Homo sapiens: one gene and its partners. The protein of the gene in region 7 purifies or fractionates together with the protein of the main gene of each other region. This does not show direct contact. Each region holds a gene or a part of one and is shown on either strand. Other genes may lie near its edges. The genes, in order: ARHGEF28, UNC45A, HDHD5, PTPN5, ROCK1, ARK2N and CDKN3.

Region 1 (4,443 bases), on a different chromosome or scaffold from region 7:
AACTAACAATGTTGTTATAGTTCAACTTTGGTATATATAAAATTCAGGCTTTTTAATATTAAATTAAGGCTTTCATGACACCTAAAACTATGGTAGGGAGAAAAATCATCATTTTGTCCCCTGTTAAGAGCTGAACTGTGTCCCCCCAAAATTCACATGTTAAGGTCCTAACCCCCAGTAGCTCAGAATGTATTTGTAGATACAGCTTTAAAGAATAAAGTTAATTGAGGTCATTATGGTGGGCCCTAATCCAATATCACTGATATAAAGAGAGATTGGGGCACAGACAGGCACAGGGGGAAGACCAGGTGAAGACGCAGGAAGAAGGTGGCCATCTCATCCGCAAGTCAAGGAGAGAGGCCTCGGAAGAAACCAACGCTGCCAACACCTTGATCCCTAATTCTAGCCTCCAGAACTGAAGAAATAAATTTCTGTTGTCTAAGCCCCCTAGCCTGTGGTACTTTGTTATGGCAGCCCTAGTCAACAAATACATTCCCCCTCTTCAAATACACTCACATCATAGAAGTTTATGGTGTCTAATACCAGTTTCAATTTCCAGGAAAATTGCCTAAAGTTCTTTGGGCAAAGCTTCTTTCCATATAGATTACACAAGTAAGGTGTCAATTTCTGAATTATGAAATATTTTAAAACATGAGAAATTATCATCCTCTCACTTCTTAAGACTTATTTAAATACTAAGTATGGCATAGGTTTTCATTTGGAAATTTTCTATTTTCTTCCCTTACATAAAAAACTTGTCAAAGTTTAACACAGCTGTCTTTTAAAAAAAAATTATCAAGATGAGGTATTCTAAATACAATGCTTTGAATTTTGAAAATAGTTTCCTTGGCACCAAATTCTAATATGTAGTAAAAGGAAAGAGAACTCAAACTTAATCAAGTTACTTTTTTCCCAGTATCTATATTATTAACATAAAATTTGGCTTGACTTACATTTTAGCCTATGCATAACAAAATCATAATGCTTTAACTGAACTGAAGAGAACTTTTGGGAAACCTGCAAATATTGAGGCATACAGAAAAATACAACTGAAAAGGGAGATTAGGATTTCAGATTTTTATACCATAAGATGTTTCCTCTGTTAATGAAAAAGGCAAATAACATATAGATGCATTCAATATATAGTTCTAAAATGTTAAAGCTAGGAGAAAAAAAGCCACAAGAATAAAATGTTGGGTTTTTTTATTGTTGTTTCTTTGTTTTTGCCTTTCAGAGTAATGCTGTTGAGCATCTCATAGGGCCGATTACATAGCAATTGTCCCACAGAGACTATTGTTTAAGGAAATTCAAATATTCTGTAGTCTTGGCTGGTGTCCCATAGAGGAGTACAGAAAAAGTTCTTAAGCCAACCATCTCTTCCACTACAAATAAAATATCAATTTGGATTTAATGTTTGAACATCCAAGAATTTTGTTCATGAAATAACTTCCAAAACTGGAAAGTAAAGTTCTTTAAAGTTCTATCTTAAAAAATATTTACAGATAACATGGGTTTATTATTAGGCAACATTGGAGAAACAAAATATTTTTAAGAAAATATCCCTTATGAGAAAAAAGTAAAGCTAAAGAGTATTTATGATACTGAAAATGTTCAGGCCCCATGCAAGAGTTGGCCACAGTAATCCAAAACATTTAGAAATATTTTCCAAATGTTACTATTAAAAAGGGAAGGAGGGGAGAAAAAAAAACCAATAAAAACAAAAACCTGGTCCTTAATCATGAACATCCCACTAGGCATTACAAAAGGATTAGATTAGTTCTATATCTAAACCAACTTCTTTAAAAAGTACAACTCATGGCTGGGCACTGTGGCTCATGCCTATAATCCCAGCACTTTGGGAGGCTGAAACAGCCAATCGCTTCAGTCCAGGAGTTCAAGACCCGCCTGGGCAATATGGGGAAACCCCGTCTCTACAAAAAAGCCAAAAATTAGCTGGGCATAGTGCAAGTCTGTAGTCCCATCTACTCAGGAGGCTGAAGTGGGAGGTTGCAGTGAGTCCAGGAGGTGGATGGAGCCCAGGAGGTGGAGGTTGCAGTGATTGAAAATCACGCCACTGAACTCCAACCTGGGCGACAGAGTGAGACTCTCAATCTCAAAAAAAGTACAGCTCAAAACAGCTTTCTAGAAATTAATAATTTAGCCCGGGTGTGGTGCCTTAAGCCTGTAATCCCAACACTTTGGGAGGCCAAGGCCAGTGGATTACTTGAGGTCAGGAGTTCGAGACCAGCCTGGACAACTTGGCGAAACTCCGTCTCTACTGAAAATACAAAAATCAGCCAGGTGTGATGGCGGGCACCTGTAATCCCAGCTACTCAGGAGGCTGAGGCAGGAGAATCACCTGAACTCGGGAGGTGGAGGTTGCAGTGAGCCAAGATATTACCACTGCACTCCAGCCTGGGCGACAAAGAGAGACTCCTTCTCAAAAAAAAAAAAAAAAAAAAAAAGCAATTCAGAATGTATAGTGTAATGATTGACAGCATGGGCTCTAAAGCCAATCTTCCCAGGTTCAATTCCCAGGTTCAATTTACTAGCTATGTGATCTGGACAAGTTACTTGACCTTTCTGTATCCCAGCTGCCCCTCTCAAAGGACAGAACCATCTCAGTGGGTTGTTGTGAGTATTAAATGAGTTTCCCCATGTAAAACCTTAGCACAGTGCCTGAAATTTGATGTGTCATATAATTACTGGTGGCAGGGGTGGGGGTAGAGCAATTCAGAAACCAATCACAATTAGAGCACAAAAATGTCTGCTGAGGCTGTACTGAAAAAACCAACAGAAATTCCTATCTAGGTGGTATCTAAACACATTGGAGAATTGTTTTTATATACAATTTTTCCCATCAGCCTTACTGTTCCAGAAATTCACATTTTCACTGATCTGAGCTGATCATCTATCCACAGTACCAGACTAGGCAAAAGGGCAAACCATTCTTTAAGATGTTACCTGGAACGGCAGACGTTATGGCCTAACAATGAAAGAGTGACTGAAGCCTGAATGAAATCATGGTTAAGTACACATTTAGCTAAAATACCAGCCCACAACATTATAGGCAAATTATGTTAGCCAGATTACAGTGAACTATGGAGATCCTCAGTAGTGGTCACTGATGGCCACTCACCCAGATTCAGCAGCAAAACACAGAAGAGGGGACAACAACACTGCCTGGTCCTTGGTTCTGGCACATCAGCTGTTACCACCCAGCACACCCTGGAGCCTGCTTCTTCCTGTCCGGCCCCCCGCAGTCACTGTCCCCCAAGATCATGTGTGGCAAGCGCCCACGGAGCCTAGCTAAGGCCATCACCAGTGGCTGATGTTGTGTTACTGTCAATGATAAAAGCTGTGAAAGCTCTGGAGGGTTTGAATAATTTTATCTAGCCTTGACCACTCTTTTAAGTGTATATATCCTATTCTCAATCCACTTTCTTATCACCGCCTATTCTCTGACTTTCTTTTCTCCCCTGTAGAAATTGCTTATCATGAAGTAAACATAAATAAGGTTTTTTGACTAGCTGCAAAACTCCAGTGGTGAACAGTACACACAGCATTTCTGATGTAATCCCTACTTATATAAACCAGGATGTTCCTGAGAGATTTAAGCCACAGTTGACTTTCTTCTCTCCTGTCAATGTCCTGAGCGTCCTTGGCCTACTCTGGACATACAATTTCTTAAGCGTAAGTACATTTCTCAGCATTTCCTTTGGCTCTAATTCCTTACATGTGGATAGACTGGTTTTGTATATAATCACTGTTTATTTCCTTAGTACATTTTCTATCTACTGCAAGTATGCTGCCAAATGGTTTAAAAAGTTTTACTTTGAAGCACAAGTCAATAGAAAAAGATGGGAGATACACAAAAAGTAAGAGACATGCTTCTTTTAAACAAAAGCTGAATGTGGTTTAACTCAAACTGAGTTTCGGAATTATACCAAAGCCAGTATGTAAAACCATGCTGACAAAACCACATGAAGCACTGTAAATAGCAGATTAATGAACCAACACAGCAAAGCAACATGTGCTTAGAAAAAGAATTCTGCAATCTGCTCTCTATTGTAGTAAAGTTGTAAGATAATATATTAAAGAAGTTACATTTTTCAAAATTTGGCTTGACCTTTTATTTAATCTGAACGATTCCATCATATTTTTTCTTTACCTAAAGAATATCTGAAATAATACTTTAAAAAACTATTTCATTCTCTCCTATATGCTGACAAGAAAGAAGAATGTTACCACGGTGACTTAAGTAATGTAAAGAATTAGCCACTATTAAGAATCAACATCTTTTGGATCAGTAATAAATCAACTTATAAGCAGTATCAGAATTATTACTCTTGAATTGGGAGAAGCCAAATACCTTCAAACCTTTTTGTTGCTGAAAAATTATCCTCCAACTGACAAACTAAGAATATATATTAAGCATAGAAA
Region 2 (4,443 bases), on a different chromosome or scaffold from region 7:
GCAGCCCTGGGAGCAGCTGCCTTAGCTCATGCCTCCCCAAGAAAAAGACCTATACCTAGACGAAGCTACCTGACCACCAGGCTTAATGGTCTAGTTCTTCCCCAGTCTAAACCCTGAGGTTCTTTCCACACCCTGGGGATGTGGACGTCACGTACACGGAATGGGCCCGTGAGACCTCTCCACCCAGTTTCTTTCTTTTTTCTTTTTTTTTTTTTTTTTTGAGACGGAGTCTTGCTCTGTCGCCCAGGCTGGAGTGCAGTAGCGCGATCTGGGCTCACTGCAAGCTCCACCTCCCAGGTTCACGCCATTTCCCTGCCTCAGCCTCCTGAGTAACTGGGATTACAGGCGCCCGCCACCGCACCCGGCTAATTTTTTGTATTTTTAGTAGAGACGGGGTTTCACCGTGTTAGCCAGGATTGTCTCAATCTCCTGACCTCGTGATCTGCCCGCCTCGGCCTTCCAAAGTGCTGGGATTACAGGCATGAGCCACCGCGCCGGGCCCTCTCCACCCTGTTTCTAAGCTGGAGAACCCTAGAAGGCCTGCTTGGTCCACTGAGCCCAAATCCTGACTGCTTCCACTTAGCAGCTAAGTGTCCTTGGCCAAGACTGTGAACTGGAATGGACCGGAAGGCAGGAGGGAACAGAATGCACATGCTTTTAACAGTCTTAGCCTTGGGAGACCCAGAATGCAGCCCAAGCTTAGCCTAAAGAGATTTCATTGACTATTTCACAGTTTCACCCCTATCTAGGAATTGTGGGCTCCTCTAAAAGCAACCAAGGGCCTAGTCTTTGGTCCCCTCTCCCCTGGAGCAAGCCAGCTCAGGTAAGAGCTGGGGGCATGGACTTCACCACACTGGCCCAGGAGCAGGACTGTTATTGCTGCACTGTCCATGCTGGGCCACCACCATCCATGCTGAGAATCATGTCGGGATCAAGCCCTACGTGTCCGGTCACTGTCTCGATGGTAGATGCTGTGGTGGCCAGGCACATTCTGGGCCATGAGCTTGCTTGTGCCATATGGACATTGAAGGAGTCAGTGACCAATGTGTTTTTGTGAGTTGGCTGCAGGAAAGCTGGGGCTCACACTTGTAAGCCCCCTACAAAGCAAGTGCTTGGGGTACCCCAAGGCTGTTTTTGCTCTTTCTACCCCACTTCATCCTAATTTATGTTGGTCTTTTTCACGCCATTTTTATTTTTTCTCTCTTGTTACATGTATCTCCTTGTACTCTGCCTTTTCTTTTTTTGTTGTTTTGTTTTGTTTTGTTTCTGAGATAGTCTCGCTCTGTCACCCAGGCTGGAGTGCAGTGGCGCGATCTCAGCTCACCACAACCTCCACCTCCTGGGTTCAAGCAAGTCTCGTGCCTCAGCCTCCTGAGTAGCTGGGATTACAGGCGTGCACTACCATGCCCGGCTAATTTTTTTATTTTTAGTAGAGACAGGGTTTCGCCTTGTTGGCCAGGCTGGTCTTGAACTCCTGACCTCAAGTGATCCACCTGCCTCAGCCCCCCAAAGTGCTGGGATTACAGGTGTGAGGCACCATAACCTACCTAAGTTCTTTTTAGAATAAGGTAAGGGGTAGAGGGTGGAAGAGTGGATGGATGGATGGACGGGCAGATGGGCGGATGGACAGATGGGTGGATGGAGGAATGGATGGACAGACAGACAAAGGGACTGAAGCTGTAACCAGCCTCTCCACTCCACCTACCCGTGACTGATGCTCAGAGCAAATGCCAACCAGCGTACGCAGAGCCGCCAGCATGAGGTCAGTCTCTCCCATGTCCAGTAAACGTTGCAAGAGCTGAACCCCATTACTCCGGAAGATCTTCTCCGCTCCAGCATCCTCCCTGGCCAGCACCACCAGGTTCTGAGAAGCCTGCGTCAAAGGAAGCACATTATAATGTTGACACTGCACACGGCATAGGATGCAGCACTGGTGAGCAGGGGCCCCGAGCCCTGGACCTCTCTGCTTCCACTTCACAGTTGAGTGACCACGGCCAAAAAATAACCTCTTTGAAGTTTAGCTTCCTCTGTAAATAGAGGGAAGAGCCTTCTCTCGGGATTGATGGTTAGAGCAAATGAGTCCCCAGCAGAGCCTGAGGGGCTGGGACAGTGCCTCAGTTACCTCTGTACACCCAGTTCCTGGCACAGGGCGTGGCCAACAAGGTACTCTGTGAACACTGGTTCTCTTTCCTTGGTTCACGCTAAAGCCCCAGACCCTCAGAGCTCCCATCCAGGCCCCGTGAGCCCAGCTGCACGATTGGAGGAGCGGCAGAGCAAGGCAGCAGTGGCTTCGGGGGCCTATGGATGGGTGGCTCTAGTGGGAGCTCACTCACTGACTCAGCCCAGGGCCTATACCTTTTGCTTTTTCTCAGTGCCCTTCTCTTCTGGGTCCAACAGTATCTGAAACATCTGTTCCACTTTGGCATCCGTCGAGGACATGTATCGCACCTAGACAAACCAACAAAGCATGGAACAAATCACGGCTCTTGGCCAGAGACATCACACTCCCTATTCATTTGTCTCCAGCTCCTCACTCTGGGAGGCACAGTAAAGATGTCCAGGCTCAGGGCTAGCACCTAGCTACCCTGGGCAGGAAGAGACTTGCCTGGCAGTGCCTCCTAAATTTCCCGCACCTGTTTTTCTTTCTGAGCTATTTCCTGCTTGGGCAGCAGGGGCTGCGCCGATGCTGGAGTGCCTTTTCGGAGGGGAGGTATCCTGTCAGCTACGAGGCAACCCACTCCCAGTGGTGCCATCTACATTGTGGCAGCGTGAATGGGCTTCCCATGGCACTGAACTCAGCATTTATACCTCCTGCCAGGGAGCTGGCAGATCGTGAGGTAGTTGCTAACACTTCCTTTAGCTCCAGAATTCTCTTTTCACTGTTTTAAAAATAATCTGAGCTGGGCGCAGTGGCTCCCGCCTGTAATCCCAAAACTTTAGGAGGCCAAGGCAGGTGGATCACCTGAGGTCAGGAGTTCAAGACTAGCCTGGCCAACAAGGTGAAACCCCATCTCTACTAAAAATACAAAAAATTAGCCGGGCGTGGTGGCAGATGCCGGTAATCCCAGCTACTCGGGAGGCTGAGGCAGGAGAATCACTTGAACCCAAGATGCGGAAGTTGCAGTGAGCCGAGATCACGCCACTGCACTCTAACCTGGGCAATAACTGTGAAACTCTGTCTCAAAAAAATAAATAAATAAAATCTGAAGCCAGGCACGGTGGCTCACGCCTGTAATCCCAACACTTTGGGAGGCCGAGGTGGGCAGATCACCTGAGGTCAGGAGTTTGAGACCAGCCTGGCCAACATGGTGAAACCCCGTCTCTACTAAAAATATAAAAATTAGCCAGGTGTGGTGGCGGGTGCCTGTAATCCCAGCTACTCGGGAGGCTGAAGCAGGAGAATCGCTTGAATCTGGGAGGTGGAGGTTGCAGTCAGCAGAGATCCACTGCACTCCAGCCTGGGTGACAGGATAAGACTGTCTCAAAACAAACAAATAAATAAATAAATAAATAATCTGAATGGGGAAGATCATCCTAGGCCTACTCCCCCACCCCCCAGAGTCCTGGGCATAGATGGTGGCACAAGCCTAGCATGTGGACCACCCGCCTTCCTCTCTTGCATCCATGGCAGCCATGACTAACCAGTCATGGCACGTTCCCCTGCTTGGCTCAGGCAATCTGCTTCCTAATTCTTCTCAACATAGGACTCTGGGCAGCCACTGCCAATCAGAGTTGGCATTGAGAGAGGAAACCTATTTGCTTTCCCAGGCTTCAACATTTCAGTGAGGTGTCTGCCATCATGTTATCTGCTTCCACTGTGTCAGCATTTTAACGTCAAATTATCTGGCGAATTTGAGCTTGGTTGTAGCTCATAATGGTCTTTAGATTCTTTTCTCCTAATTTAAAAATATACGTATTTTACACAATTTCTCTTTATTAAAAAAATATGAACAGGTGATGCAGTCTCCTTTGGAAAGCCCTCTCAATCCCATTCCTTTCCCCAGGGGTCACCGTGTTATCATTTTGATGTATATCTTTTAAAATATTTTCCTGAAAAAATAAAGAAACAAAAATGCATATTTGGCCCAGTGCCATGGCTCACGCCTGTTATCCCAGCCAGTTGGGAGGCTGAGGTGAGTAGATCCCTTGAGCCTAGGAGTTCAAGACCAGCCACCTGGGCAACACAGTAAAACCCTGTCTCTACAAAAAATATAAAAATTAGGCGAGCGTGGTGACATGCATTTGTCCCAGCTACTTGGGAGGCTGAAGTGGGAGGACTGCTTGAGCCCGGGAGGAAGAGGTTGTACTCCAGCATGGGTGACAGAGTGAGACCCCGTCTCAAAATACATAAATAAATAAAAATAAAAATAAATTTAAAAAATAAAATATTTTCGGCTGGGTGCAGTGGCTCACACATGTAATCCCAGCACTTTGGGAGGCCGA
Region 3 (3,572 bases), on a different chromosome or scaffold from region 7:
TAGTCTTTCCTTCCCCATGCCACTCACTATTCCAGGAAAACCGTAAGCTTAGAGAATTTTAGTGGTGGAAAGACACCTAGAGGTGATCTAGTCTAGTGTTTCTCAACTTTTAAACCCAGTTCTCCCCTTTTTATACCAAGAACATTGGAATATCCCCTTTATTATCCTGAAGTGAAATTCTTAGGTAATATAACTTCTGTACACACATATTAAAAATTAGTTCAGTATAAAGCCCTAACTGTAATAGGGGGATATAAAAGGAAACATTTTTAGTAAGAAGATAATGTATTTCAGTATGTAGTAGTTATCCAAGAAGTAAAATGGTTGCACTAAACAGAATCACCATGAATGTTAACAGCTACAAATGCAGGCTGATGTGTGTTTATAGGTGTGACAGGCGTGTTTTACCGGTGACTCAGAAATTAGGGGCAGCATTGCCGTTGGTCAAGTGATTTTCCAAAATAGGTAACAGTTCTTGGTAGAGTTTTGAAAAGGCAAAGTACAGTCTTCTCTTGACTTACACGATAGTTGTATTTTTGGAAAAATTGATGTTTATTGAAGCTGTACAAAAATGCTTTGTGATTGTATGTAAAATAGAATCGTTCAAGTAATTCTGAAAAGGTTGTTCACCTGTGTGGATACCAGGATATCAGGTGGGACATTCAAATGTTATGAGGACATGGGAAAGTTTTTTCTTTTTCTTCTTGTTGTTTTGTAGAGACGGGCTCTCACTATGTTGCCCAGGCTGGTCTCAAACTCCTGAGCTCAAGCAATCCTACCACCTTGGCCTCCCAAAGTGCTGGAATTACAGACACAAGCCACCGCACGCAGCCATGGGATGGTTTTTTTAAAAATTAATTTTAGTGTGGGATAGTTTTTGATTGCACAGGATTGTCCTGAGTATGTAGCGTCCCTGGCCCCCTCCCACAACCTTCACTTGCTAGGTTCTAGTCATTGTGACAACTAAAATTGCCTCTGATTTGTAAAGCACCTCAGCAGGGGCGGTGCTGCCCCATGGAGAATCACTGGTCTGGTGCAGTTCACCGGCCCTGTACCTTAGTGTCAGCAGTGTTCTTTGCCTAGTGCTTACTGTGTGTCTAGTCCTGGGCTGTTTACCGATGATGTAGCTCATTTTTATCCTCACAATAGCTAAGTGCTGTTGCTGTTATGTAGTTGCAGTTGAGGAAACTGAGGCTTAGAGAAGAGAAGTTACTTGGCCACAGTCATACAGGAGAATCGGTGGAGTCCAGGTTGGGTTTCAAGTCTCTATCACTCCACACCCCCTGTCCTGGCTGTTAGGTTCTGCCAGTCCCTGGGGCTCAGAGAGAAGCGACTGAGGGAACAGGAGCCCTTGCTAAGTCATGTGAGGGAGAATGTGGTGGCAGAGTCCCAGCCAGCAAGGAGAAGTAGCCCTGAGACATGCTGCTTTTGTTTTGTAACCTCTTCTGTGAAGCACTGGTGGACTGAAGTCAGAATGGGAGCCCTCAGGAATCTCCTTCCTGGGCCCTGGGCCTTGTGCACCCAGGGTGGATGGGTAAGGGGCTCTACTGGGCTTGTTGGGGAGCTGTGCCCCTGCCCAGCTGGGTGCACCATGGGTGGAGGGCTTGTGGATGGGTAGCCCTAGCTGGCATCCTGAGGGCCTGCCGCCTGCCATCTGCCCTGCAGCCCTCACCTGCGCCTCTGTTCTTTAAAGGGGTGCTCCTCCTAGGGGAGCCGGTCCGCTGGGAGACCAGCCTGCAGCTGATCATGGATGTCCTCCTCAGCAATGGGAGCCCTGGGGCTGGCCTGGCAACACCCCCCTACCCCCACCTCCCCGTCCTAGCCAGCAACATGGATCTCCTGTGGATGGCTGAAGCCAAGATGCCCAGGTGAGGACACAAAGCTCCCAGCCTTGGCCTGGTGGTCTATTCCTGGCTGCTGCCTGGGCAGTCCTGCAGGCAGTTCCCATCCGTCCTGACACCCCAGGTGCCGGGACCTCACTTAGGTAGGCCCTGTTGTTGCTGCAGTAACCTGGCCTTTGGAAGGGCTTTCAAGGACCACTCCACATATTAGTTACTAAACCTAAACTACAGATTATGGAGTCTGAGGATGTATTGAGAGGATGTTTCACACGTGACCCCTGCCCCCTGTAATCTTTACAGAACATGCTCTTGGTGTCTGGTGGATCCCAAACCGTGGGCACTTTTTGTACCGTATCTGTGCACATTATTCAGTTGCTCTTCCTTCCTTGGCTCCATCCTGTAGCATTGGTTCTTTGACTTTCTGGTTTCCTTTTACCCTTCAGACATAAGGCAGGAGGAAGCAAGGATTTGTCGTTTTTTGTTTGTTTTGTTTTTTTTGCGGGGACAGTGTCTCACTCTCTCATCCAGGCTGGAGTGCAGTGGTGCAGTCATAGCTCACTGCAGCCTTGAACTCCTGGCCTCAAGTGACCCCCGTGCCTCAGCCTCCAAAAGTGCCGGGATTACAGGCGTGCTCCATCATGCCGGCCAAGGATTGTTCTGATAGTCGTATAGACCAGAGAACTGAGACCCAGCAGATAAGTGGCTTTCTCAGGGGCATGCAGGTGCCTATACTCCCTGCTCAGCTGTGTTGGTGTCATGTGTCCTGTCTTATTCTGGGGCTAGCACAGATAGAGGCAGCCCTTTTTTGGCCTCAGGGTGCTTACTTGAAGGCCAGCTGACAGCTGCTGTGTACTGTTCGGTTGCTGTTATCTGCATGGCCAGTCTCTTGAGTCTCAGCCTGCTGTTGACCCCCAGTCGACAGTGCTCGTCAGCAGAGGGTGGGCACGGCCCAGTACTGCCTCAGGGCCCGTCTCAGTAGTCCCAGAGAGACGGGGTATGGTATGCTCTTGTCACTTTTAAAGTGTATGTCTGTGGCTCGAGGCTTGGCATTGTCTCTGAAGTATTATTCCTAGAGGCGGGTATGCTGACACTAGATCAGTGGGCTTGGTTGGTTATGTCTCTGTGAACTGAAAAGCAAGGGGCAGATTTCAATTTACAAACCAGATTTTAGATGAACTTTTCTAATTAAAAGTAGAATTATTTACATAAATGACACTGAAAGATGTGGTGGCTCATGCTTGTAATCCCAACACTTCGGGAGGCCGAGGTGGGTGGATCACCTGAGGTCAGTTCAAGATCAGCCTGGCCAACATGGCAAAACCCCGTCTCTACTAAAAATATAAAAATTAGCCGGGCATGGTGGCAGGTGCCTGTAATCCCAGCTACTCGGAGGCTGAGGCAGGAGAATCACTTGAACCCAGGGGGTGGAGGTTGCAGTGAGCTGAGATTGTACCCAAGCGCCAGCCATCATATCAGCATTCCAGGTGTCAAGAAGGAGTTGGGGAGGGCAGAGAGGGCAGAGAAGAATACCGTCCCCAGTTTGTTTGTTTTTTTTTTTTAGATGGAGTCTTGCTCTTTTGCCCAGGCTGGAATGCAGTGGTGCAATCTTGGCCCGCTGCAACCTCCGCCTCCCGGGTTCAAGTGATTCTCCTGCCTCAGCCCCCCAAGTAGCTGGGACTACAGGCATGTGCCACCACACCCAGCTAATTTTTGCATTTTTGGTAGAGACAG
Region 4 (4,443 bases), on a different chromosome or scaffold from region 7:
TGATTCTTTCTCGAAGGGGAGATGATGGCAGTGGGAGCTCAGAGAAGGAGCTGAGGCTGGGGTGGTTAAAGAAGGCTTTCTAGAGGCATCTGGAGTGAGTGATGATGTGAGCAAAGGCACAGGAGGAGAAAGGCACGGACGAGACTGGCCCAGTTTGAAGTGGACAGTCCCTGCAGGGGTGGGGCATGGGGCATAAGGCTGGAAAAGGAGGCTGGGGCCACACGAGGTAAGGGGTGCTGATGGTGTATGCAGGTGGTACCAAGTTCTGGAGAACTTGGAGCAGCAGATCAGATGATGATGGAGGTCTTCTCACAGGGGAGAGCTACCCGGTCCAGACAGGCCCAGGGCGGAGGCCAAAGGAAGGGAGCTATGAGGGAGGAGGCACCTGCTTCTGTACCCCTGTGGCTTCTACCAGGAGGAACTCACCCCAGATACTCTTGGCCTCTTGCCTTTTCCTGCTCACAGAAGTGAGGAGTTACCTGTTTGGTGAATTTGGTTGAGGAATGGAGCTTTGGAGCCTCAGCCCCTTCCTTCCTCCTCCTCTCAGGGCCCTCCTGCCAGGAAAGAATTATAGGGGTGCCCCCATGCGGCAAGGTCCGAGATGTGCCGGCACCCCTGTGGAGGGTGGAAAGTGCATGTAATTCTGGGTCTCAGTATCGGGAGGCTCACTCTTGCTGTACCCTGCTAAGCCACATTTCCAACCTGTATTTTATTGACAACAAAGGTGATATTGTAATCTCCTATGCCTTAGCTCTTAACTGGCTGAGCACTCAGGCAGGTAAACAGGGGTGCCATTTATTGAGCCCCTCAAAGTCCAATAGGAGGCAGCTGGAGGCTGCTGCAGAAGCCAGGGTGGAGGTGATTAGGACCTAAGCTAGGGCCCCAGGGGTGGTAACGAGGGGAGGCCACTAGAGAGATTTCAAAGGCAGAAGAACAATGCTCGGCAGGAGGAAAGTGGGAAAACAGAAGAGTTAGAAGTGAAGGTTCTCTGTGGCTTTCAGAGCACAGCACTGGGCAATAAAGACTTAGCATTGTCACTGTACCTCCATCACCTGGCTGGGTGCTCTGCACATGTTATAAGTCTCTTTAATCTTTGCAACAATTCTATTATTTTCATCCCCATTTTCCAGATGAGGAAACTGAAGCTCAGAGGGAAAGCAGCTTGCCCAAGATGGTGGGAGAGCTGATAATAAAGTGATACTAATCTACTGCAGATGCTGAGTTCCAGGCACCACGCTCCACCACCTGGGCAGGTGGATGATTGACATGGGTCTGCACACAGTGGGGCGACCGGCTCAAGGGAACTCACAAAGAATTCCGCCTGCAGCAGGAAAGGGTCCAGGGCCTTTTCATGAAGCTCTTCTGCTTGGAGGACACGGGAGGCGCTGAGCAGGTACTCGCGGGCGGACTCCTCACGTGGGGACATGAGATAGCCAAAGCCCTCCTCGTTGCAGCCCGGAGTGCACATGTCCAGGGTCAGGGAGACATTGGAACCCCTCCTGGAAGGACCAGGAAAGGGAGTGTGAGCCTCAGGGGCAGAGGGACGGGCATGAGCTGGGGTCTCCAGGGCTGGGAAAATGAGGGAGGGAGAGATCAGCTGGGAACAGGGTGGGGTTGAGGAAGAGGAGTGGGAGTGTGACAAGACCCCCTGACAAAGAAGCGTGAATCTCAGCCCTGAGGCATTGGCCTGACTCCCTATCTCCTGCCTCCTGCAGTGGAGATGTTAACTTAGTGGGGATTTGGGGCTCCAGTTCTAAAAGTTCCATCCAAAGCTACCCCAACATGGCCTTACCCTGGACTCTCCTCCATCACCGTTGGAGGAAGTTCTACCCTGTGGTCCCCAGGAAGCTCAGAGAGGGGACACCTGCCTGAAGCACAGAAGCGGGGCTTGGGCCCGAGAGGATGGCTCCAGACCCTCCCCACTGCAGTCCCGGGCCCAACAGCCCTGGGATGAGGCTGCTGGTGAGTCAAGGACATATTGTCCAGGAGAGGCCAGGACCCCCGCTGTCAGGAAGGAGGGAGTCCCAGGAGCAGCACGGTGGCCGCAAGGATGTCTACAATGGGCAAACTCTACTATACTCAGAGTCTCAGACACAGGACAGGATGGGGCTTCATTACATAGAAAGAGAAACTGAGTCCCCATGAAGGGCCAAGAGTTGTCCAGGCTCTCCCAGTAAGGGGGTGGCAGAGCTGAAATAAAAAGCTAGGTTTCCTGACTCCACACCCAGTGTTCTTTCTGTGACATCACATGGGTAACTCAAATTTGGTGTGATCTGGCTCACCCACCTAGACTCTGAAACGAGGGTGTCTACACTTCTCAAAGTGTGCTCTGTGGAACACTATGAGCTACCCTATAAAAACAGGTTCTAATTGGGTACCCAGGTACATAAAGATGGCAACAATAGAAACTGGGGACTACTAGAGGAGGGAGGGAGAGAGGCGGGCAAGGGATGAAAAACTAACTGCTGGGCACTACGCTCAGTACCTGGGTGATGGGATCATTTGTACCCCAAACCTCGGCATTATGCAATATGCTCAGGTAACAACACTGCACATGCACCCCCTCAATCCAAAATAAAAGTAAAACAAAAAAATAGAGTTCCGTGGTCAAGTGACTTTGGGAAATGCCACATACTGCCCCCTTGCTGATTTACAATGAACATAAGCATGTTAAAGGCCCTGACAAGTCCTGCAGCAAAGAAAACCACCCAAACTTACTTGAGCATGGGAGAGTGTGTGTGAACATGTGTACACCTATGTGTGCGTGTGCAGTAACAGTATTTCTCAGCATTCATCTTGGGGCACTTTGATCTCTATGAATGACCTGGATAGCACATGTCTACACTGGCTAAGCTATAAGGCCAGCTCTGCCCTGGGCACCAGGAGTCAGAGTCAGGCATCCACTCTTCTGATCAGGAGCTAAGAGCTCAAGGGCCCGTGGAGCCCACCCCTCCTCCACCCCTCCCACCTCTCCTGCAGACCCATGGACTTGACGGTGAGTGAGGTGGGGTCAGCCTCAGGCTTGATGTCCATCACACAATCAAACACAGGAGTCTCGGGCACCGGGTCGAGGTCCAGGAAGTCATCCTCGATCTTCTCCTCCATCCACTCTGAGTAGGTGAAGGAGGGCTGGCGGCTCACTGACTGGCGCCTGTCCTCAGGGGGCAGTGGGGTGGGTGGCTCTGGGGGTGTCCTCAGGAGGTGCCACACCTGGTTGGGGTGTACAGCATCACAGATTTCGGACCACGCTGGCTGCCCCCCGTGTTCCTGGAGTGCCCATGGGATTGACGCCCCCCCACTCCCTCAGTGTGTCTAGAGCAGCTCTGCTCTCCTGGGAGTTGTCCACAAGGCACTGCCCCTGGCCTCGATGGGAGGCTCCATGCCCACTCTCCTTCCCTGCCCCTCCCTCTCCCAGCTCTCTGTTTCTTGTGGCTTCAGGCCTTCTCAGTGGGGCTTGGGAGTTCCTACACCAGTCTTCTCCCTGTCTCATCCCCTTTCCTTAGCCCAGATCACTGCAAACCAATTTTCGGAAAGAAGGAGGCTCTTGCCCCAGGCTGGCACACTTGTGCAAAGAGATAGGTATCCCTCCTTGCCCCACCCAGAATGTCCAGCCTATAAGTCAGATGGGAGCTGGTAGAAATCCAGGCCTCAAGGTCAGAGGAGGACAGCCTTGAGGTTGGGGTCAGGAGGCGCCTTACCAGGGTGGTAACGAGGACCAGGCCCACGGACAGAAAGACCAGCAGCAGACTGGGGACTCCCCACGTCCCAGAGTCAAGCCAGGCCTGGGGAACATCAGATAAACAGGTCAGGGTGGTGGTGGGGGCAGAGTTCTCAGCTCTTGCAATGATGACAAAACCAAGATTCTGAAAATCACGTCCCAGGTCTGGGATGGGGAGCAGGCAGAAGAACTTCAGGGGCTTGGAAGTATCTTCTGAACTCAGAGAAGCCCAATCTGGAGGTTGGGGAGGGTGGGACTAGAGGCCCCCAACAGATCCCTGCTACCCTAGGACTCCCCAAAGCTTACTTACCGTGGGTTCCAGCTGTTTCAGGAGCGTCAGCAAAGAGGAGACGAGGTTTGTGGCGTTCTGTGACCAGATGTGGCCATAACCGCTGAACCAGAGCACCCCACAGGCAAGCTGGGGCACAGGGGAGCAGGCTGAGTATGGAGCCGGCCCCCTTCCCCCGTGTTCCCCCAGCAGAGCTCACCTGCAGCCTCAACCTGGCCCTGCATGGAGGCTCCTGAACCTCTAAGGTCCAGACCGGGCAGCTGAGAGCAGGGCCCCGGTGCTGCGTGCCCGGGGAGGCCTCAGGACTCTCCTTGGAGAAAAGCTGACTGAAGGGAACCAAGAGAAAGCCCTTTCCAGAGAGGACCTCACAAATATGTACATCAAAAGAGTAGTCTCCTAGAAAGGCCTCCACAGACAGGAGTTCTCAGGAGAACCC
Region 5 (4,443 bases), on a different chromosome or scaffold from region 7:
GTCTCATTTTGAGATATTTTCTTTACTCCTTCCATGAGCTGATCTTGATAGTGATGGCTGTTCCACTTGAAAGTGAAAGTCCCTTCCTCTTACTCATATGAGGAAAACTCTGTTCTATCACGACTGACAGGCATTTTCTTATAAATCCAAAAAGGCAGCACCTTTTAAAAAAAATATATCTACCTAAGCTTTCCCCCAACTGTACTTGCATTACATAGTAATAATTAATCTAATCTACCTGTAGGCAAACCCGCAATAAAAAAAACCCTCAGTGTGTTGTGCCAAAGCAAGGACAGAAAAACAGCAATCTTAACCCTGAAGCCTGTGATATTTGTGTCAAAGAAACAGCCTGTCTGCTCTGCATGGTTAAAGAAGCCTGGTTTATCAGGTAGCATCCCACACGATTCCACAGGGCACTCAGTCACATGGTTAACTGTTGAGGGAGGGGGAAAAAACTAATTTAAGAAATGCACTCAGTTTAAAAATACAAGAAACAAACATTAGGAGGAAAGGTAAATATACATTATCTTTACATAAAATAATTAACAATTACACAAAATTTGGAAAACAAGGAATAGGAAAAATATACTTAGTATTCTCTCCTCTTTGTTTCTACACATTTTCTTACTCAGCTATAATCTCATTTCAAATCATTTTAGATCCAGTTTACAACCTATGCTCAGGAGAAGGCTGACATAGCATTCTACAGAATTAAGTTAGCAGTAAGGTGATAATACCTGGCATAGTATGGTGGCTGAGAAAGGAAAGGATATAAGTCATTTCAAAGAATTAGGCCTGGTTACTGACAATAGGGCATGAACAAAAGGGATGAATTCAAGATGGCTTTAAGCCTGCTTGGAAGATGTAGGTGACATTGGCAGCGAGGCAAATCAGTGTTAGGTCTCAGCTTCTAATTCGAGTGGCCCTATTAATCTAGGGAGTACACTCTAGGGAAGGTGGTATGTGGTAGAATAGAGGCTTTGGAATTGGACAACATAGGCTTTAGAATTGGACAGAAATGGTTTCCAATCCATTGGCTGTGTGATTGAGCAAACTGCTTAATTTCTCTGAGCCTTATTTACTAATGTGTAAAATGAGAACTTAATGAGATGAGATTTCATTATTTCTCTCCAAGAAAGAGTTAACTGCCTGGTGCGGTGGCTCATGCCTGTAATCGCAGCACTTTGGGAGGCCCAGGAAGGTGCATCACCTGAGGTCAGGAGTTCAAGACCAGCCTGGCCAACATGTTAAACTCCATCTCTACTAAAAATACAAAAATTAGCAGGCCGTGGTGGCATGTGCCTGTAATTCCAGCTACTCAGGAGGCTGAGGTGGGAGAATAGCTTGAACCTGGGAGGCAGAGGTTGCAGTGAGCTGAGATTGCGCCACTGCACTCTGGCCTGGGTGACAGAGCGAGACTCTGTCTCAAAATGAATGAATGAATGAATGAATGAATGAATGAATGAATGGTTATGCCTTATAATTGTTTATCATGGCATAAAACATATTTTTGGAAAAAAGTCCATCAAAAATAGTTAAACAGCCAGGCATGGTGGCTCACGCCTGTAATCCCAGCACTTTGGGAGGCTGGGGCATGCAGATCATTTGAGGTCAGGAGTTTGAGATCAGCCTGGCCAACATGATGAAACCCTCTCTCTACTAAAAATACAAAAATTAGCCAGGCGTGGCATGCGTCTGTAATCCCCGCTACTTGGGAGGCTGAGGCTGGAGAATTGCTTGAACTTGGGAGGTGGAGGTTGCAGTGAGCTGAGATAGCGCCACCACTGCACTCCAGCCTGGGTGACAGAGTGAGACTCTGTCTCAAAAAACAAAAAAAAAAAGGGGGTCATGAGTTCACATCCTTTGAAGGGACATGGATGAAGCTGGAAACCATCATTCTCAGCAAACTAACACAGGAATAGAAAACCAAACACCACAGGTTCTCACTCGTAAGTGGGAGTTGAACAATGAGAAAACATGGACACAGGGAGGGGAACGTCACGCACCAGGGCCTGTCGAGGGATGGGGGGCTAGGGCAGGGATAGCATTAGGAGAAATACCTAATGTAGATGATGGGTTGATGGGTGCAGCAAACCACCATGGCACGTGTATACCCATGTAACAAACCTGCATGTTCTGCACATATATCCCAGAACTTAAAGTATAATAATTAAAAAAACATAGTCACTGATAATACCAAATAATTTTGTATGTTGGGATAGTATGGGAAGTTAACAAAAAAGGGAAAAACAATTTTGGTTTTTGTAGAAAAACTATGCCAACACAGTTAAAAAACAGAAAAGATGATGAAAAGTTTTATATGAATTTCTGCATTAAAAAAATTAAGTTGGTTAAAGCATTAAGGGCTAAAACTATGCCATGTACAGCAACTTATGACAATAAAATTAGACACAGAACTAAATAAATATAATATTGCATGTATTATTATTATTAAACTCTAACAAGAATAAGTTAAACTAATTTATAAAGTCACTGCAATTCACATACAAATACCTAAAAATGATGCCCTCTGTGGTGAAAAGCACAATTAGATTTCTGATTTTAATAGCTGTTATCCAATCATTTTCACATTGTTAAAAACGTTAGCATTTCAAATCCTTACCTAGTTTTTCCAGATGTATTTTTGACCACTTTCCGGAAAGACTGATTTGCAGTGGATCTTGTAGAAAGCGTTCGAGGGGAAGCACGAACAAAACCAGATGGTGGATTCTTAGGGATTTTCTTTACTAAATGAGTTACCCATTTTTTTTGTTCATCCTGAGAACATGCTAACAGCAGCATATCTCTTGCTGATGTTACATCATAACTTACTATGTTAAGGAGGAAAAAAAAAGCATAATTAAAGCCATATAGTTTTTTAAAATCCAACCTATCAAATGCATAGTTTTTCAAGTTCTTAAGGTTTTAAAAGTTTTAATATGCTTAATTAAGCATGAACAATATCTCATTCTCCTTAAGTTAAATAAGGCTGAAATTAAAAAAAAAAATTAGTCAAACTAATAAAGTAAAATCAGAAATATAACAAAATGTAAAACAAATAAATGTATTTAAAGAACATAAGCTTCTTATCTGAAAATAGCTATGGTCTGTATTCTTTCCCTCAAGCTACCTCTGTAAAACTAGAAGATATTCTGTGATACAGCATGCATGCTGATCCAGGCAGTGAATGCCAGACAAAAAGAAGAGGAAAAACTCAAGGGAGGAATAGAGTGGAACTCACCTGTTGCTCTTCTCTCCAACTTGGAATAATTTCTTAGCAGCATGTTTGTTTGTTTTTGTTTGTTTACAAGGGGGTGATTCTCTTTAAAAACACTGTTGGCCGGGCGTGCAATGGCTCACACCTGTAATCCCAGCACTTTGGGAGGCCGAGGTGGGTGGATCACCTGATGTCAGGAGTTCGAAACCAGCCTGGACAACATGGTGAAACTCCATCTCTACTAAAAATACAAAATTAGCCGGGTGTGGTGGCACACGCCTATAGTCCCAGCTACTCAGGAGGCTGAGATAGGAGAATCACTTGAACCTGGGAGGCAGAGGCTGCAGTGAGCTGAGATCACGCCACTGCACTCCAGCCTGGGCGAGACAGAGTGAGAATCCATCTCAATCAATCAGTCAATCAATAAAAATAAATAAAAACATTTTTAAAAGCTAAATCTGTAAATAGCTGCATATTGCCCCACCAGTGTCAAAATAATACTTTCTATAATCTCTTTTCAACTTGGTATAGAAATCACTACACATAAGTTAGTTCATTGAGACTTAAAATTAAATTTGTTATAAGTTGTAACAATAATTACCATGCCTTACCTTTACATGGACAAATTAAGTCCTCTTTCTTATCTAAGTGATCTCTGTGGCACTTAACATGGCATCTTCGACACTCTAGGGCAGGGGGTGGCTTAAAAACATGCCAGAGAGGTTTGGCACAGGCATCACAATTGGCAGGAAAGTGGTAGAGTGTAGGAATAAACTCATGGCCTTTGTGATTTTGGAAATTAGTTTTTTCAGCTTGTTGTACTGGTTCCATCTCTACATCTTTTCTACATTCACCTTCATTTGCATATAGTATCTACATTCAGGAATGGTGAAAGGAAAAGATTTTAAAAATCTTAAGCATTGGTATATTTTACATTTACTTCACAAAAACGCTTAGGACTTAGATTCTTTAAAATTATAACTTCAGATTTTTACCTGGAATATTTTAGGAATTTCTTCAGTTTCAGCTCTATACACATCTCCTTGGGTTACAGGTCTAACGTGAAACAGTTTACTAAAATGAAAATAAATACAGGCCATTTACAAAAACTCATTTATTGTAAAAGACATTTCACTAAAGAGGACATATGGGTGATAAATAAGCACACAAAAAGATATTCAACATCATCAGTCATTAGAGAAATGCAAATTAAAACCACAATAAGT
Region 6 (4,443 bases), on a different chromosome or scaffold from region 7:
TCTACCGCCGTTTCTGCCTGAGAGGGTTCATTCTCTTCTGCGGAAGACAACGTATCTGAATCAGCCAGGTGACCACTAGAGGAAGGGGAAAGCATGCAGTGATTAGAGGAGTCACTCTCATAAACTCGGCCAGTTGTAGGCTTGTCACTCTCTGTGGATGCTAACTGAGACTCAGAAGAGTCCCTTCTCAGTTCCATCAACAAGCAGGGCATTGAAGAAATAACTGTAGAATCCGCTACACCATCTTTCTGAACTTGAGATTCCAGTTCTACAGATCCATCTTCCTCCTTGGCTGTCTCTTGTTCAGATGCTTTTGGTGGGGCTTCGGACTCAATGAGTTCTTCAACTTTTCCCACTGCCTCCTCCATCTTCATTTCAGAATTTCAAGTTAAATCATGGAGTAGAGTCTAGGAAATGATATCAAAGATGCAACAGGAAAGCAACCTGTACAAAAACACACAAAGTCAATAAACAGAATGCCAGATTATTTAGTCAACACAACATGCCTACCTTTCTAAGTGGGTGGGGCAAAACTTACTATTACACAGGCCTTTAAAATATATATATATTATTATCTGCTTGTTTGATCAACAGTCAAATTCAAAGGACTTAATACGGTCAAAATCTAAGCATACTGAGCTACTAAAAATGCCATAATATTAATCCTCTAACTTGAAAGGCCAACATGTAATGAACATTTTCAAGTTTACAATTTTATTTAAAGTGTTCTACAAAGAAATCTTCAAAACTCTGATATAATTAATATGCATTCATTGACTTTGATATAAATGAAAAAGAATGCTTTAAAACTAGTCTAGAAATGCATTACCTGGAATGACTACTTTTACATTCAAATCCAAAAAGAAAGGAGGTGGGAGGAGGGGAGTTACAATAGAGAAACATCAAATGTTTTTGTTTGTTTGTTTGTTTGTTTTTGAGACAGGGTCTTACTCTGCCACCCAGGCTGGAGTGCAATGGTGCAATCTCAGTTCACTGCAACCTCCGTTGCCCTGGCTCAAGCAATTCTCTTGCCTCAGCCTTCCAAATGGCTGGGACTACAGGCGCACACCACCACACCCGGCTAATTTTTGTATTTTTTGTAGAGACAGGATTTCACCATGTTGCCCAGGCTGGTCTCGAACTCCTGAGCTCAAGTGATCCACCCACTGTGGCCTCCCAAACTGCTGGGATTACAGGAGTAAGCCACCGTGCCTGGCCCCTACATTTATGTTTAAAAAAACAAAAACACAAACACACTCCAACTACATGCATTTGGCAAATGAGCAACCAAATACTATGCATCCAACTTGTCTGCAGTCCCCTCAATAGGAGTTGCTCTAGTGAAGCATTAAGATGAAAAGCCAGAATTTGATGCTTCCTCAATCCTACCTAGCTCCCACATACCTCATCATGCTGAATTTGAGTCTAGTGTTTAAATAGATGTTTTATCCACAATGGTCACTAAATACAGAACCCAGAAAGCCTAGTATATTCTATGAATGAATAAAGGGATTTAAGAGAAAATACTCTACACCCATTGTACACTTTGTATGCTAAATTTAGAACCTAACACTCTACCACCACTGTGAGTGATACAACTCCAATTAACCATACAGGTACAGGACATAATATTTAACCTCAAAAGCTTATGACCTATATACAGTTAAGTCCTTACTTAACATTGTCAACAGGTTCTTGGAAACTGAGACTTTAAGTGAAATGACATTTAACAAAACCAATTTTTCTCATTAACCTTATAACTAAAGGACATCATTCAAAGACCAGCAGTATCTTGTTCCATTTAAAGTCGCAGTTTCCAAGAACCTATTGAAAATCTGGTGGTTTTTAAAGAGGATGCTAAATATGGAAAACAAGTAAATACCTTGCCCTGTATGTGTTACATTACAGAAAGCAACTATCATGTCCATAGGTCACAGACACACATAACCATTATTCTATACGGTATGCTAGGTGCAATATGGCATCTCCATCATCTCACTCCATCAAGTTACCTAGATAGTTCAATCTATAGCAGACAAAAACTAGGAAATATTTGCAAAATCCTTTAAAACAGATCTAACATGCCAAGCCCACTTTTTGCTTAATACAAACATAAATATTCTATATGCCTGTTGTTTTTCATAGCCCTGTTCTCAGCTGTTGATAAAACAGGCATTCTGATTAAGTTTCCTTAACACATTCATGGAAACCAGAACATTCATGGCCACTGAAACATCTGTTAATTTAAAACAATCCTAGGCCAGGAGTGGTGGCTCACACCTGTTATCCCAGCACTTTAGGAGGTGGAGGCAAGTGGATCACCTGAGGTTGGAAGTTCGAGACCAGTCTGGCCAACATGGTGAAACCCCGTCTCTACTAAAAATACAAAAATTGGCCAGGCATGGTGGCGAGCGCCTGTAGTCCCAGCTACTCGGGAGGCTGAGGCAAAAGAACTGCTTGAACCTGGGAGGCGGAGGTTGCAGTGAGCCAAGATCACGCCACTGCGTTCCAGCCTGGGTGACAGAGCAAGACTCCATCTCAAAAAAATAAATAAAATAAATAAAAAATAAATAAAACAATCTTGTGTGTAGCCTACTTCACAAGCATATTTGTATCAATTATAATACTAATGTTGGAGGCTAAGTGAAAATCAGCATAAATATTTTTTCTGACACCATTACAAAAAAATGTAACACCTCTGAAAGCCAACAGAGGGAGTAACAGTTAAACCAACGGAGACCGTTATAAATAAAGCATGCTGTCAATACAAACACGAAATAAAATATTCACAGATACAAAATACCCCCAGGTATGAGGAATAAACCCAAGTTCTTTTTTTTAAGCCAGTCAAATTTAGCAGTGGGGGGGACAAAGATTTTCTAACTGAATAAAAATGAGAGTTAATTCTATTATGGAGATTCAAATTGTATATTCTGGAATAATGATTCTTCTTAAGGCTGGGCACGGTGGCTCACGTTTGTATTCCCAGCACTTTGGGAGGCCGAGGCAGGTGGATCACGAGATCAGGAGTTCAAGACCAGCCTGGCCGAGATGGTCAAAGCCCATCTCTACTAAAAATACAAAAATTAGCCAGGCGTGGTGGCAGGCACCTGTAATCTCAGCTACTTAGGAGGCTGAAGCAGGAGAATCACTTGAACCCGGGAGGTGGAGCTTGCAGTGAGCCGAGGTCCCGCCACTGCACTCCAGCCTGGGCGACAGAGTGAGACTTAGTCTCCAAAAAAAAAAAAAAAAAAAAAAAAAAAATTCTTCTTAAAGCTAAAATATCTGAGAAAATATACTCAGATGGAATTAATGTCAGCTATATAGGACAAGCATCAAAAGTCTCAATTTGTGAAAGAAGGCAGCACTGGATATTTTCAAAGTACATAATACAGCATCAGACTAAAAAGTAAATTTGTTAAAATGACCATACAACGCTTGTTTCTTCAAGAAATAAGTTGTGTGGATAAAACAGGTAAATCTAGATTGTTTTTCCCTGTTAAAAAAAAATGACAATATGGCACATCATTCAATTTAATGATTATCTTTCAAGTTCCTTAAATTTGAGTGTTAACTGAGATTTAATTTATACTACCTAAATTAGTAACCGGTATTGCAGTCAAAACCACTTAAATATGCTCAAATCAATCACAAAAGACTAGTATTGACCACAAACAGGACAAAAGTTAGCTCATCATGGTATGTTCATACAATGTGGCCATTAAAAAAATGAGAAAGCACTTTATATAGAGAGGTAAGAAACAGTTCTCACGCAATTTTAATGAAAAAAGATACATTATAGCATTTATGTAAATAAATAACAAAACTATATTTACATGAGTTTATCTGTAGATGCATAGACTCTGGAAAGATACTTAAGAAAATAGTAATACCAGTTGAGAAGGAAAGCAGGTGAATAAGGGAACAGGAGAAGACAGTGTGGTATGCAGTTTTGTATCTCTTGAATTTGTGATGTATACAAACATTATCTATTCAAAAATCCACTCTGACATAAAAGTCTTCTGAAGAAAAAGAAGTTGTGCTTTTCTGGGGCCATAACACTAGACTACTCTTTGGGTCAAGCTTAGTCAATAAATTCTACTATGCTTTCTTCCTATAGTGGAATTTTGCTATAATTAATTAAATACAGGAGAAAAAAGTCACAGAAAGTGAAAATATAAGCTCTGACTAAACTCCCTTCAGTGGAATAAAAACGAAGTGCCCTAACCACAGGGGGAAATGATGTCATACATAAAGATTAATCTTTCCATACAACCAGATTATTTACTGCATATATTGTTTTTGGTCAAGGGGAAAAAAATAGGTTTTTCTGGTAGGAACAGTCAAGTAGCTAGCAGTATAAAATGATATAATTGTCAAATAGGAATTGCATCACATAAATGGCATAAAAGGCTATCAACCCTCTGGGTTAATGTTGACAGT
Region 7 (4,443 bases):
ATCATTGGTTCAAAGTCAGTCTTGTACATTTTGGAATGTCATATTCATTTAGCATTTTCTATAAAAACAGTTTCCAATTTTTTTCAAAATACTTTTTTTTCTGCAATGAAATCTTAAATGGAATCCAGTACATAAAACAGGTCAATATGTTTGATTGGAGACCTAGAATCTCCCTGCAGCAGTTCCTGAGATACTTTCTTAGCCCTTTCTCAGAAAGTTGGAAAATCACTGGATAATAAAAATTACCAAATGTGTACAAAAGGCAAATAGATGTATAGTACTGTACATCTCAGGGATTAGTTCATGAGAAGGTACTTTGTACTTAAATAGCTACATGTCCTTGGATTTAAGGGACAGGGAGAGGGCTGGAGTTGGGAGCACTTAGATCATCCAGTTATTTATTTTAAACCAAATGCTCAATAGTTAATATTGCCATAAAGAAGTCCTAGTGTATAGAATGCCTATAGTATTCATATCATTATAATGAGAATAGCTAGGTCACAGAAGTTTAATACAGGTAATGTTTTATTTACTGGCGACCTAGTCTATAAAATTAAATACACAAGGATGTGTTACAGTGCAGATATGAGGGAGAATACTAGCACCTCTGACACCATGGCCATGCTGGAGATTTTATATACAATACTCAGAGTCAAGCAAACAGCTAAGTGATGAAGTAGCAGACATGGTTGATTTTGTGAGAAAAAGAAAAAAAGTGCTATCATCCTTAATTGAACATAGATCTATCATACCTTAATTGATAGCACTTTTTTTCTTTTTCTCACAAAATCAACCATATTTGCTACTCAATTTTAAGTGTTTTAAGAGTTATTTTATGCCAGGCATGGTGGCTCATGCCTGTAATCCCAGCACTTTGGGAGGCGGAGGCGGGCAGATCAACTGAGGTCGGGAGTTCAAGACCAGCCTGACAAACATGGTGAAACCCCGTCTCTACTAAAAATACAAAATTAGCTGGGCGTGGTGACACATGCTTGTAATCCCAGCTACTTGAGAGGCTGAGGCAGGAGAATCACTTGAACCTGGGAGGCAGAGGTTGCAGTGAGCTGAGATCGTGCCATTGCACTCCGGCCTGGTGACAGAGCAAGACTCCATCTCAAAAAAAAAAAAAAAAAAAAAGAGGGGGGGTTATTTTAAAGCAGTATTCATTGCAAAAAAAAATTTTTTGCAAGAACAGCAATTGACTTATTTTGAAATTCAGTAAAAGGCATTTTGACTTGTAATATGAGGTTTAATTCTAGACCCCTTTTGATTCAGACATATCAATAGGCACTTCAGATTTATAGATTGTCATTTGGTATTAGTTTGGCTTAAGAAATTTAATTTCATATTCTCCCTCTTGATGGTATTTAAATGTGTGATGTTTTCTATGTGTGTGTGTCTGTGTATCCTGGTCTATTGGCAGAAGAACTAAAGAGCTGTGGTATACAAGACATATTTGTTTTCTGCACCAGAGGGGAACTGTCAAAATATAGAGTCCCAAACCTTCTGGATCTCTACCAGCAATGTGGAATTATCACCCATCATCATCCAATCGCAGATGGAGGGACTCCTGACATAGCCAGCTGCTGTGAAATAATGGAAGAGCTTACAACCTGCCTTAAAAATTACCGAAAAACCTTAATACAGTACGTTCTTTTCTCCATACACTATGTGAGAAATGTCTCAGTCAAAATGATTTCTGGAATTATGGTAGCCCTATTCAGTTATCACCTACTTCATAGTTTGTTGTAAGGATTAAAAGGTAATAATGCACTAGGAAAGCACTGGCACAATGTCTGGTACAGGGTAAGTAGTCAAATACGTGCTGTTATTACTTTTCAAGAGTAGGGACAATAAATGAGTAGATTTGGAAATTGTTAGAACAAGGTTACAAGCTTTTCTTTTTTATTTCTTTCCTTTAGTCTTAGACCTTTAGTTGCAATTTTGGGACCCTCCTTTCCCCTCATCACCATCACTGCCTCACTTATTAGCTTTTCAATTGCTTAGTTGCTTTCAATAGCAAGAAAATCAATTTTTTGGCCAGGTGCAGTGGCTCGCGCCTGTAATCCCAGCATTTTGGGAGACTGTGGTGGGTGGCTCACTTGAGCTCAGGAGTTCAAGACCAGCCTGGGCAACATGGCAAAACCCCATCTCCGCAAAAAGTATACAAAAGAACATGCCAGGCATGGTGGTACGTGCCTGTAGTCCCAGCTACTCAGGAGGATGAGGTGGGGGAACTGCTTGAGCCTGGGAGACAGAGGTTGCAGTGAGCCAAGGTGACAGTACTGCACTCCAGCCTGGGTGACAGGGAGACCCCATCTAGAAAAAAAAAAATAAAGAAAGTCGATTTTTTCAAAATTAGCTACCAAAAAAGTTACCTCTAAGCAATAAGCAATCCTAAAAATATGACTTGAAAATTACATTTGATGATATGACTGCTAACAGATTGAAAGAGGGCCTCTCATTGTGTGTCAGTGGCTATAAAAACACAAGCTGCTGGTGTGAAAGTTTAAAACAAAAGAAGATGGGTTAAGGAAAGGGGACAAAATGAGGAGGAAAGAAAAGCAGCTTGGAGGAAGGCCAGAGAGAGTGGCAATGGGCAGTAGATAGTAGCATGGCAAAGATTCAAAGGGGCGATGTGGATAAAAAACAAGAGATGCTCTGCCGGAAGTGAAACACACAAAGCAACAGAGAGCCAGCCATGGGGAGGAAACTGGACTTTGCCGTGCATAATGTATATTTCATATTCTAATAACCTGCTTAATCCTTTCTCGAATAAGGTAGGGTATTAAATAGTTTACGACCTCAAAAGCCCCAAGTTCCTTAAGGACATTGCTTTGAGCTAGAAGTATAGAAATTATATCAAATAGCCATGGGGTTCTCAGGGCACCTAGTCATAGGACAAGCCCAGCCAACTTCTCCTCTTAAACCTATAGCCCAGGGGCCTCATGCCAACAGTGTCAGTTCTGAAGGCAAACCAACTAGTACGAGGGTCTTTGGGGACACACACCTGTTTGTGGCCAAACTGAACTCTGACATACAGAGAAATATAGTTTGCAGAATATGCAGTAGAGAACTAGAAGCCATTCTACATCCTATTGTTTCCCATCTTCCTCTATGGAAAAAGCATAGTCACTTAACCAGTACTAATTATAAAAGCTAAATTTCAAATAGATCCAGTTGATGATGTGAAAGTTTCTGATACATATAGGTAAAATAGTATTAGATAGTTAAATGTAGCTGGGGAAAAATATTTTCCAACATAGGGCCCTATTTTTCAAACCATTTTGAGATCTTTTTTTTTTTTTTCAAATAAATTTTTGAAAGCAGCCTCTACTGAAAAGTTTCCAGAAATCAAACTAGCTCTGTTTAGTGAAGTGAAGCTTAACAAATTCTACTGTAGCTGGTTCTGGCAACCCAAATGCTCTGATGTTTGTGCAGAGTACAAACAGGATAGACAGTAGATGGGTGACTTTGCATATGCTGAATGTTTCAGTCTCCCATAAAATAAAGCATCTGACAACTGGCATTTTTCATTGTCCTAGAGCTTTCGAAGGTGTCCTACGGTGACTAGTTTATTTTCTATCCATTCTGCCATCTTTGAGGACCCACACTTCTAGACAGCTATAGAGCTTATCCTTCAGCAACAGGATCTGGTAAACCTTTTTCACTGACCTGTTGTCTACCAGTGCTGTCTCACTGGTTCTGCCTGGACATTTGCAGCCCTTTATAAAATTAGTGAACAACACTGCTTGCCTACTGTATTTTGTAGTTTCTTGGGGCTATTGTAACAAAGTACCACAAACCAGGTAGCTGAAAACAACAGAAATTTCTTCTTTCCCATTTCTAGAGGATGTAAGTCCAAAATTAAGATGAGAGCAGAGCCATGCCCTCTGAGACTGAGGAGAGTCCTTCCATGCCTCTTCCTAGCTTCTGGTGGTGGCCATCAATCCATGGCAGGCCTTGGCTTGCAGCTGAATCCCTCCAGTCTGCCTCTGTCATCACACACTTCCTCGGATGTCTGTGTCTTTGCATGGTGTTGTCCTTGTGTAAGGACACTAGTCATCTAGGATGAGGGCCTGCTCTAATTCGTCTTAACTTGAATATACCTGCAAAGACTCAAATTCTGAATAAGGTCCCACTCACAGGTACAGGATAAGGACTTCAGCATGTCTTTTGGGGGGACATAATTCAACCAGTAACACCTACCGTGTACCACACGCCAAGACTACCAAACGAGGCACAGTCCCCACCTTCGAGGAACCTATAACTAACACTACCATTTAACTGCAATAAGACAGGAGAGGCAGCACACAGGAAAATGATCCTTTCTGTAGGAGCACAAAGGCATTTTAGGAAATGAAATTTGAGGTTTTAAAAGATAAGTAGGAATTCATCAAATAGAAGAAAAAAGATGAAAATAGCAAAAGGTATAAAATAGTA

What was found.
Region 1: the proteins of CDKN3 (region 7) and ARHGEF28 purify together in Homo sapiens (affinity purification with mass spectrometry, with the first as the bait; one large-scale study listed by BioGRID). This does not show direct contact.
Region 2: the proteins of CDKN3 (region 7) and UNC45A purify together in Homo sapiens (affinity purification with mass spectrometry, with the first as the bait; one large-scale study listed by BioGRID). This does not show direct contact.
Region 3: the proteins of CDKN3 (region 7) and HDHD5 purify together in Homo sapiens (affinity purification with mass spectrometry, with the first as the bait; one large-scale study listed by BioGRID). This does not show direct contact.
Region 4: the proteins of CDKN3 (region 7) and PTPN5 purify together in Homo sapiens (affinity purification with mass spectrometry; one large-scale study listed by BioGRID and IntAct). This does not show direct contact.
Region 5: the proteins of CDKN3 (region 7) and ROCK1 purify together in Homo sapiens (affinity purification with western blotting, with the first as the bait; one study listed by BioGRID). This does not show direct contact.
Region 6: the proteins of CDKN3 (region 7) and ARK2N purify together in Homo sapiens (affinity purification with mass spectrometry; one large-scale study listed by BioGRID and IntAct). This does not show direct contact.

Annotation. Positions count from the first base shown.
Region 1 is NC_000005.10:73,912,414-73,916,856, reverse strand, and holds part of ARHGEF28 (rho guanine nucleotide exchange factor 28), read right to left. Parts: intron 1-4,443. UniProt on the Homo sapiens protein: Functions as a RHOA-specific guanine nucleotide exchange factor regulating signaling pathways downstream of integrins and growth factor receptors. Functions in axonal branching, synapse formation and dendritic morphogenesis.
Region 2 is NC_000015.10:90,937,736-90,942,178, reverse strand, and holds part of UNC45A (protein unc-45 homolog A), read right to left. Parts: intron 2,449-4,443; coding exon 2,356-2,448; intron 1,874-2,355; coding exon 1,706-1,873; intron 1-1,705.
Region 3 is NC_000022.11:17,139,355-17,142,926, reverse strand, and holds part of HDHD5 (haloacid dehalogenase-like hydrolase domain-containing 5 isoform 2 precursor), read left to right. Parts: intron 1-718; coding exon of another isoform or gene 719-858; exon of another isoform or gene 859-1,530; coding exon of another isoform or gene 1,531-1,534; intron 1,535-1,693; coding exon 1,694-1,868; intron 1,869-3,572.
Region 4 is NC_000011.10:18,739,294-18,743,736, forward strand, and holds part of PTPN5 (tyrosine-protein phosphatase non-receptor type 5), read right to left. Parts: intron 4,137-4,443; coding exon 4,029-4,136; intron 3,783-4,028; coding exon 3,699-3,782; intron 3,211-3,698; coding exon 2,969-3,210; intron 2,595-2,968; exon of another isoform or gene 1,500-2,594; coding exon 1,310-1,499; exon of another isoform or gene 1,131-1,309; intron 1-1,130. UniProt on the Homo sapiens protein: May regulate the activity of several effector molecules involved in synaptic plasticity and neuronal cell survival, including MAPKs, Src family kinases and NMDA receptors.
Region 5 is NC_000018.10:20,950,955-20,955,397, forward strand, and holds part of ROCK1 (rho-associated protein kinase 1), read right to left. Parts: intron 4,292-4,443; coding exon 4,213-4,291; intron 4,091-4,212; coding exon 3,829-4,090; intron 2,832-3,828; coding exon 2,624-2,831; intron 434-2,623; coding exon 430-433; 3' UTR 1-429. UniProt on the Homo sapiens protein: Protein kinase which is a key regulator of the actin cytoskeleton and cell polarity.
Region 6 is NC_000018.10:46,211,812-46,216,254, reverse strand, and holds part of ARK2N (protein ARK2N), read right to left. Parts: intron 445-4,443; 5' UTR 375-444; coding exon 1-374. UniProt on the Homo sapiens protein: AMPK substrate important for exercise capacity and skeletal muscle function.
Region 7 is NC_000014.9:54,410,061-54,414,503, forward strand, and holds part of CDKN3 (cyclin-dependent kinase inhibitor 3), read left to right. Parts: intron 1-1,423; coding exon 1,424-1,646; intron 1,647-4,443. UniProt on the Homo sapiens protein: May play a role in cell cycle regulation. Dual specificity CC phosphatase active toward substrates containing either phosphotyrosine or phosphoserine residues. Dephosphorylates CDK2 at 'Thr-160' in a cyclin-dependent manner.